2 separate regions of the Homo sapiens genome follow, and region 2 is linked to region 1. The links come from fine-mapping of genetic effects on gene expression. A gene starts in region 1. The other region holds a variant in brackets. All regions are shown on one strand. Distances are from middle to middle. Region 1 holds the start of S100A13 (S100 calcium binding protein A13). Region 2 has its middle 20 kb from the start of S100A16.

What was found. PIP is the estimated chance that this variant, and not a neighbour inherited with it, causes the effect.
Region 2: its variant is the best candidate, but not a certain one, in a credible set for the expression of S100A13 in adrenal gland (GTEx, PIP 0.59).

Annotation. Positions count from the first base shown.
Region 1 is chr1:153,624,860-153,629,248 of GRCh38, reverse strand. S100A13 (S100 calcium binding protein A13) reads left to right here and starts at 1,744. Exons shown (of 3, transcript NM_001024211.2): 1 at 1,744-1,766; 2 at 2,716-2,929. The coding sequence starts at 2,777. It overlaps S100A1 (S100 calcium binding protein A1), which reads right to left and starts at 815. Exons shown (of 3, transcript NM_006271.2): 1 at 753-815. RefSeq lists enhancers at 1-670, 1,497-2,322.
Region 2 is chr1:153,590,816-153,595,204 of GRCh38, reverse strand. No RefSeq gene overlaps it. Among named protein-coding and RNA genes, the nearest start is that of S100A16, 20 kb to the left of the region's middle. The variant T/C (reference allele first, on the strand shown) is at 2,045.

The DNA of each region.
Region 1 (4,389 bases):
ATTACCTGCTCCATGCCAGAGGGGCAGCTGGAGGTCACCTGGAGCCCTAAAGCAGCCTGGGATTTTACGTGGTGGCAGTTCTGAGAGGACTTGGGGGCAGGGGAGATGGGGAAACAAAGAGGTAAGAATGGGGGGAAAGAGGAGTCAAGAGGTCTGGGCCAAAAATGGGAGGAGGAGAAAGGGGAGGTCCTGTGGAGGTCGAGTTGGGAAGGGGCACAGCACCCTACATCTCTGCTTCCCCATATCATGGGAGCTTTGCCCTGCCACCCCCAGACTCCCCCGGGACCTGAGCTCTTGGCAAGGCAGGGTGGGGGTGGCAGAGACTAAGGCTGGCAGGAGAGGTGGGGGCAGAAACAGCTGTTGTATCTGCTCTCTTCTTACCCCACAGGAGGCGAGGCAGGGGAGGGCTGGGACCCTTCCCAACACCTGGGAGACAGAGGGGGCCTTGGCAGGGACTTGAGGGCTCCCTGTGGGAGGGCCAGGCGGTCAGGAAGCTCATGGTGGGTTCCCCACTGGCTTCCTCCTTTGCTGAGCTGCCAGCTCTCTCTCCGACCTTCAGTTCATTTGTCTCTCATCACCACCTTCCAAACCCTGTCTCCCCCAAATCCCAAACTGCCCTCACCCTGACTGACTCCTCCCAGATCCTCAGTGCTCCACAGTGCTATGGTCCCCAGCCTCTTGGAGCCCTTCTGAAGACCCCTCTCCCTGAAGCTGGCAGGCCAGGGACTAGCCCAGTGGGGCAGGGTACTCACGGTTGGCCTGGGCCTGAGGTGGGAGCAGGTTCTGGACAGATGGCCAAGGTTGCAAATGTGGCTGCTGGAGCTGTGTGTGGAGACCTGTCTTCAACAGTCCCTCCCCCGCTGACCCCCCCACCGACTCCACCCCTTCACAGACGAACACCCTGTGGGGCAAGGGGCCAGGAGCAGACAGAGGCGCCCTCTGTCTCCTGGGCTGGAACAGGCGGCCCTTGTCTCTTTCCCAGCCTTGCTTGCCCCGTTCCTTTCTCTCCAGGCAGCAGTGGATGGTGCAGGGGAAAGAGGTGGGAAGGAGGTCCTGGGAGGGACACTGGATGTCTTACCCCAAGCTGGGCCTTGCAGTACCTGTGGCTGGCTGTGCTGGTTGAGCCCGGTAAGGGGGGAATTCTGCTGAGGGGGTCTTAGTCTGTGGCTCCTCCATGGGGCCTCACTGAGAGGACCCTCAGTGAGAAACTTAGTCTTGGGAGTCTGAGAACCCACAGAGGGATTTCAATCCAGGACTCTTCTCTGGGGGTCTCAACCTGGATCCCCCTCTGTGTGTGGGGCCTCAGCCTGGGGTTCTCTGAGGGATCTTGGTCTGTAGCATCCTTTGTGGGATCTCATTCCAAGGGGCCTCTGTGTGTGTCTCAGATTGGGCCTCTCAGTGTTGAGCTCCCTTGATTGGTTGCCTCCCTCTTCCCCCCTCAGCATACACACTCCTGATTAGACATGGGTATGGTGGCAGCAGCCCCCAGTATTGAGAGGACTAGGACCCTGGGACCCCTGCCGAACGAGATCTGTCCAGGCAGCTCCTCTCCCTGACCAAGTGGGGGCGCTCGTGTGGCTGGCAGGGAGCCCGGGTCCAGACCTGAGGGCTCAGGGCAAGCGGCCTGATTGGGCTGTCTCTGGTCTTCAGAATCGACCACGGAAATTTGACACCTCCGGGCTTGGAAGCAGCTCTCTCCTCCTTCCCCGCTGCTTATAAACCTCAGCCCTGAGGCTCCAGCTCACTCTACCCCATCTCCTTGCCGGGTGAGTCTCATGGCTGACCCTGGAGGGAGGCTGGAGATCATTTTTTCTTCCTGGGCTCCCAGGTCCCTCCCCCAGAGCCAGCTCAGACAGGAATTCAGGAAGGAGCTTTGGATGATCGAGCAACAGCGCGTGCAGGAGTGTGTGACGGGGTGGACAGAAAAGAGAATGCCTCTTCCAGCCCCACCCGCCGCACCCCAGGGGGTTGTGAGTGCCTGTACTAAACCCGTCCTGGAGCAGGGAGTCAGAGACGCCCCGTTCCAGGACCCTTGTCACCGGGAGACAGGAGCGGGGAGGATCTGTGGGGTCCTGGGTTCAGCACTCTGCCCTGCTGCCGCTGAGGAGAGGTAAGGGTGGAGCGGGGCAGAGAAAATGGGTCTGTTCAGACGGAGCCAGCTCTGACCACAGGGGACATTTGCCAGACCCTGTGCTTCTCTGCTGGGAGGAGCGGTTAGAGTGTGTGTGGGCGGATGCGAGTGGCCGGAGACCAGGGCCCAACATAAACAAGCTTTGGAGACAAACAACCTTATGACCTGTGAGTCTGGGTGAGACAAGAAGGGATTCTTGAGACAGACACGCCACAGAGGGGCCACCAGACTTGAAGGACTCCAAGAAGGACCTTCAACTGAAGACCTCCTCTCAAGTAGAGGGGTCTCCAGATCGAGGGATCACCACAGAGGGGTCCCTAAGCCACAGACATTTAAAAAGGATCCCGGATTGTGAGACCTACAGAAGAGGGGGTTTCTGGAGCTGAATCTCCTGCCCCCACCAAAACTGAGATGCCGTTGCCTGGTCTGCTGCCCCAAGCTCAACCCCTGTCCTCTCCCTCTTTCCCCATATGCCCCCTCCAGGCTGAGACTGATGTGATAACACCAAGGCAGGGACCTTCTGAACCATTCCTGCATCTTGGGGCTCCCTGACTCTCCCTCTCTGCTCCTTCTCTCTTCCACAGGTCAGCCCTGACAAAGGTCAGCTAGCCCCTTGAGGACATCAGCTTTGGCCTCAGGGTCCTAATGGCAGCAGAACCACTGACAGAGCTAGAGGAGTCCATTGAGACCGTGGTCACCACCTTCTTCACCTTTGCAAGGCAGGAGGGCCGGAAGGATAGCCTCAGCGTCAACGAGTTCAAAGAGCTGGTTACCCAGCAGTTGCCCCATCTGCTCAAGGTAGGCAGAAGTCTGGGACTGAGATTTTGTGAGATGATGATTATGGGACACTGTGTTTAGGACGTGATGGTGCCGAGTACGGTGAGGTGACCACAAGAAAGGGTGTGGGTGGCTGCATGTGTCAATGGTTGCAGGTTTTCTTTTGTTTTTTCGAGACAAAGTCTCACTCTGTTGCCCAGGCCGGAGTGCAGTGGTGTGATCTTGGCTCACTGCAACCTCCATCTCCGGGGTTCAAGTGATTCTCCTGCCTCAGCCTCCTGAGTAGCTGGGATTACAGGTGTGTGCCACCACGCCGAGCCTATTTCTGTATTTTTAGTAGAGACAGGGTTTCACCAGGTTGGCCAGGCTGGTCTCGAACTCCTGACCTCAGGTGATCCACCCGCCTCGGCCTCCCAAAGTGCTGTGGTTACAGGCGCAAGCCACTGCGCCTGACCCGGTTGTGAGTTTTCTTGCCTGGTGTGTACATGTGTGTGTTTGTGTGTCCATGCATATAATTAGGTAAGCAAAGATACTATGTGCCAGTGGGAGTATGGTCTTGTGTCAGAAGATGCTGTTGGGTTCTTGTGTATGCTCTGTGCCTTTCTGGTCTAATTTCCCCAAGACAGGACTGGACCCAGAGCTGGCTTCCAGGAGATTCACAGACTGTCAGAGCTGGAAGGAGGCCAAGAGAAAACACAGTCCGCATTCCTCACTTCACATATATGGAAACTGAGGCCTAGCAGTGGAAAGGGGCTTATCAAAAATGAAAACACAGCCAAATTCATGGAGTCATAGACCTCAGTGTAGGGGGTCTGTGGGTGCATCTGTGAAGACTCCCTACCCGCTATGGGCATCCCCTTACTAGGGTGTAAGAGTCATTCCTTCTCTCGCACTCACAGGCTGGAGTCAGGTCTTAAATTTCATCGACTCTGGCCTCGAAGAGGCCTGGTCATTCTGGCTGTTGACAGTTTGTTTTACATCCTTTCTGAAAATCCACAGGCACGTTGAAGTGTGTGAATATGGACTCCTTGAACACAGTGAGTCTCTGAAACTCATGGTCTTTCATCTGCAAAATCCCCTACAACTTCCAACTTCTCAGACTTTTTTTTGAGACAGGGTTTCTCACTCTGTTGCCCAGGCCACTGTGCGATCACAGCTCATTGCATCCTTGACCTTCCGGGCTCAGGCAATCCTCCTGCCCCAGCCTCACAAGTAGCTGGGACCACAGGCGCATGCCACACTGCCTGGCTAATTTTTTCTTTTTTTGTGACAGAGTCTCACTCTGTCACCGAGGCTGGAGTGCAATGGTGCGATCTTGGCTCACTGCAACCTCTGCCTCCTGGGTTCAAGTGGTTCTCTTACCTCAGCCTCATGAGTAGCTGGGATTACAGGCAACCGCCACCATGCCTGGATAATTTTTGTATTTTTAGTAGAGACGGGGTTTCACTATGTTGGCCAGGCTGGTTTCGAACTCCTGATCT
Region 2 (4,389 bases), 34 kb after region 1:
CTCCCAAAGTGCTGGGACTACAGGCATGGGCCACCACTCCCAGCCTCAGGCACTGTTCTGTCTCTGCCGTCACAGAACTCAGTCCACTCGGGTGGAGATATACAATCAGTAAGCAGACAAGAAAATCATATGGCATATGGAGAAAAACAAAGCAAGAAAGAGGACAGTGAGTCCTGAGGAATGGGGCTGGTGGAGAGATGTAACAATGGGATGGATTTGGGAGAAATGTAAGGGGTAAAAAAGTCAGGCCTTGCTTATGAACTGAATCTGATGGACCAGAGAGAGGAAGGTGTCCAGGCAACTTCCATATATCTGGCTTGTGCAGCCAGAATGGTAGTGCCATTCATTGATACAGGCAATGCTGGGAAAGGCCCAGAACCCTTTTTCAGAGTGAGTGGGGAAGGAGGACATGTGGACACTGCAAGTTTAGTTTCAGACATCCCTTTGGGATAGTGATGTGGTGATGACAAAATGGTAGTTGGGGGGTGCACGGCAGGTGCGGTGGCTCATGCCTGTAATCCCAGCAATTTGAGAGGCTGAGGCAGGTGGATCACTTGAGGCCAGGAGTTTGAAACCAGCCTTGGCAACATGGTGAAACCACATCTCTACTAAGCATGCACCAGTAATCCCAGCTACTCGGGAGGTTGGGGTGGGAAAATTGCTTGAACCCAGGAGGCAGAGGTTGCAGTGAGCTGAGATCACGCCACTGCACTCCAGCCTGGATGACAGAGTGAGACTCCATCTCAAAAAAAAAAAAAAAGGATAGTTGGATATCCACATCTAGAGTTCATGGGGGAGGGCTGGATTGGCAATTTGGGAGTCAGAAACATTTAGATGGTAACCTAAGTACTGGGCACGGATGAGCTTGCCCATGGCAAGCATGGAGTGAGAAGAGGGTCTGTCCAAAAGGCACGTCCAAATGCAGACTCCATATGCCCCTTTTGTCCTCAACCTGCTCTTCGTGCTCTGGTTCGCTGGCAGCTCTGTTGTCAGCATGGAGCCATTCATTCTTCCTTTCTATATTTCGCATCCCACATCTTGTCTGTTTTGAAATCCTGCTAGTTCCATCTTCAAAACATATCCAGAATTAATCCCTCTTTCCACTTCTACTGCTACCATATTGATCAGAATCATGGTTGTCTCTTACTTAGACATTCCAAGCATCTCCCCTTGTTCCTTTATAGGAACATACTCACCTTATATACTCATATAGCAGCCAGAATCATTCTTTAAAAATGTGCTTCAGGCTGGGTGCAGTGGCTTACGACTGTAATCCCAGCACTTTGGGAGGCCGAGGTGGATGGATCACTTGAGGTCAGGAGTTCAAGACCAGCTTCGCCAACATGGTGAAATCCCGTCTCTACTAAAACAAAAATTAGCTGGGTGTGGTGGGCATGCCTGTAATTCCAGCTACTCTGGAGGCTGAGGCAGGAGAATTGCTTGAACCTGGGAGGCGGAGGTTGCAGTGAGCCGAGATCATGCCACTGCACTCCAGCCTGGGTGACAGAGCAAGACTCCATCCTGGAAAAAAAAAAGTTATGAAAGTAGATCATAATAAATGTTATTTATCAAAAAAGTACAATTTAAATTATTTTACTTGTAGTTAGCCAAAGGGAAAATGAACAAAATATTGAACTTCAGGTAATTTTTTTTTTCTCTTGAGATGGAGTCTGTCGCTCAGGCTGGAGTGCAGTGGCCCGATCTCGGCTCACTGCAACCTCTGCCTCCCGGGTTCAAGCAATCCTCTTGCCTCAGCCTCCTGAGTAGCTGGGATTACACGTGTCTGCTAATACATGCCCAGCTAATACATGCCCAGCTAATTTTTTTTAAAATACTTTTAGTAGAGACAGGATTTCACCATGTTGGCCAGGCTGGTCTCAAACTCCTGAGCTCAGGTGATCTGCTCACCTCGGCCTCCCAAAGTGCTGGGATTACAAGCATGAGCCACTTTGCCCGGCCCTTACTACACGTTTTCATTTTAGACGGTGACTTACGAATTCTTCCAGGGGGATGAGGAAAATAATACATTTACACTTCCATTTCC[T/C]GTACCCCAGAGTAGCACTATCTGATAGTTATATTATGTATACAGTATTTACATTCTGTCTTGTAACCGTGATTTCCATGTAAGTTTAGCTTCAGTTCTCTGAATGCGATGCTCACAGACAGAGCGTTTAGCTTGGTTTCTTAATTCCTGCATCCTTAATGTGATTTATTATTTGGTTGGTTGAATTTCAAAGGGCCCTTGTTTTATGTATTCCCTGAGTTGTTTCTTTCAACTCGAGTCTGTTGCAGCTTGGCAGGGAATACAATTCTTGGGTCACCCTTTCTCTCTGAGCCCTGTAACCTTCTCTCTACTGTTTGCTGACATTGTGTGTTTCATGGGAAAATCTCAGGGGAACTGGACTCTCCTCCCTGATACACAGCTTGCTTTCTGTTCATGGATGCTCTTCCTTTTTAAAGATTCTTTTTCTTTTCCTATTGTTCTAATGATGAAGTATTTCAAAGGTACAGAAAAGTACAGAAAATAACACAATATCTAATCATAAGCTTTGTTGAAGTTGGACATTTTTCTATATTTGAGTTAGATTGCTTTAAATAAATAACTAAAACTTACAGATCCAGTTAAAGGCCTCTGTGTACACTTCCGTATTGTACTTGCACTTTCCACAGCTGTAGTCACTATCCTGAACTGTGTATTTATGATCCCCTTGATTGAAAAATTTTTTGATCACATGTGTACAAATTTCTAAACAATATATTATTATTATTATTATTATTGAGATGGAGTCTTGTTGTGTTGCCCAGGCTGGAGTGCAGTGGCACAATCTCGGCTCACTGCAACCTCTGCCTCCCAGGTTGAAGTGATTCTCCTGCCTTAGCCTCCCAAGTAGCTGGGATTACAGGCGCCCGCCACCACGCCCAGCTAATTTTTAAACAATATTTTATTTAGTATTGCATGTTTTTGCACTTTACATAAATGGTATCATAGCATATAAATTCTTCTGCAACTTCCTCTCTTGTTTAAAATAAGATTTTACTTATTTATTTATTTATTTGAGATGGAGTTTCACTCTCGTTGCCTAGGCTGGAGCGCAATGGCTCAATCTGGGCTCACTGCAACCTCTGCCTCCTAGGTTCAAGCGATTCTCCTGCCTAAGCCTCCTGAGTAGCTGGGATTACAGGCCTGCACCACCACGCCCAGCTAATTTTGTATTTTTAGTAGAGACGGGGTTTCTCCATGTTGGTTAGGCTGGTCTTGAACTCCTGACCTCAGGTGATCCACCCACCTTGGCCTCCCAAAGTGCTGGGATTACAGGTGTCAGCCACCGTGCCCAGATAAAATAAGAGATTTATTTTAAGATTTATATTGATGGAGTTCATTCATTTTTACTACTCTATCATATTTCATTGTATGAAAATACCCTATTTATCTATAGTCCTATTGATGGACATTGGGCTGTTTTCAGTTTTTTGGGTGATTTATTTTAAAACTATTTTATTATCTATTTTTGTTTGTTTGAGACGGACTCTTGCCCTGTTGCCCAGGCTGGAGTGCAATGGCTCGATCTTGGCTCACTGCTACCTCTGCCTCCCAGGTTCAAGCGATTCTCTTGCCTCAGCCTCCTGAGTAGCTGGGATTACTGGCGCTCACCACCATGCCCAGCTAATTTTTTGTATATTTAGTAGAGACAGGGTTTCACCATGTTGGCCAGGCTGGTCTTGAACTTCTGACCTCAGGTGATCTGCCAGCCTCGGCCTATCAAAGTGCTGAGATTACAGGCGTGAGCCACCGCACTTGGCCGTTATTATCTATTAATTTAAAAATTTTGTTGCATTGCAGTCAGAAAAACATAATCTGTATAATATTGCAAACTTTTTTTTTTTTTTTTGAGATGGAGTCTCGCTCTGTCGCCTAGGCTGGAATGCAGTGGCGTGATGGCAGCTCACTGCAAGCTCCACCTCCCAGGTTTATGCCATTCTCCTGCCTCAGCCTCCTGAGTAGGTGGGACTACAGGCGCCTGCCACCACACCCGGCTAATTTTAGTAGAGACAGGGTTTCACCGTGTTAGCCAGGATGGTCTTGATCTCCTGACCTTGTGATTTGCCCTCCTTGGGCTCCCAAAGTGGTGGGATTACAGGTGGCCCTTTTTTTTTTTTTTTTTTTTTTTTTTGAGACAGCGTTTTGCTCTGTTGCCCAGGCTGGAGTGCAATGGCACAATCATAACTCACTGCAGCCTCGAATTCCTGGGCTCAAGCGATCCTCCTGCTTCAGCTTCCCAAAGTGCTGGGATTATAGGTGTGAGCCAACACATCTGGCCTTAATCTGATAATAGTGAGTCTCTGAAATTTTTCAAGGCTTTCTTTATAGCATCCAACATATTCAATATT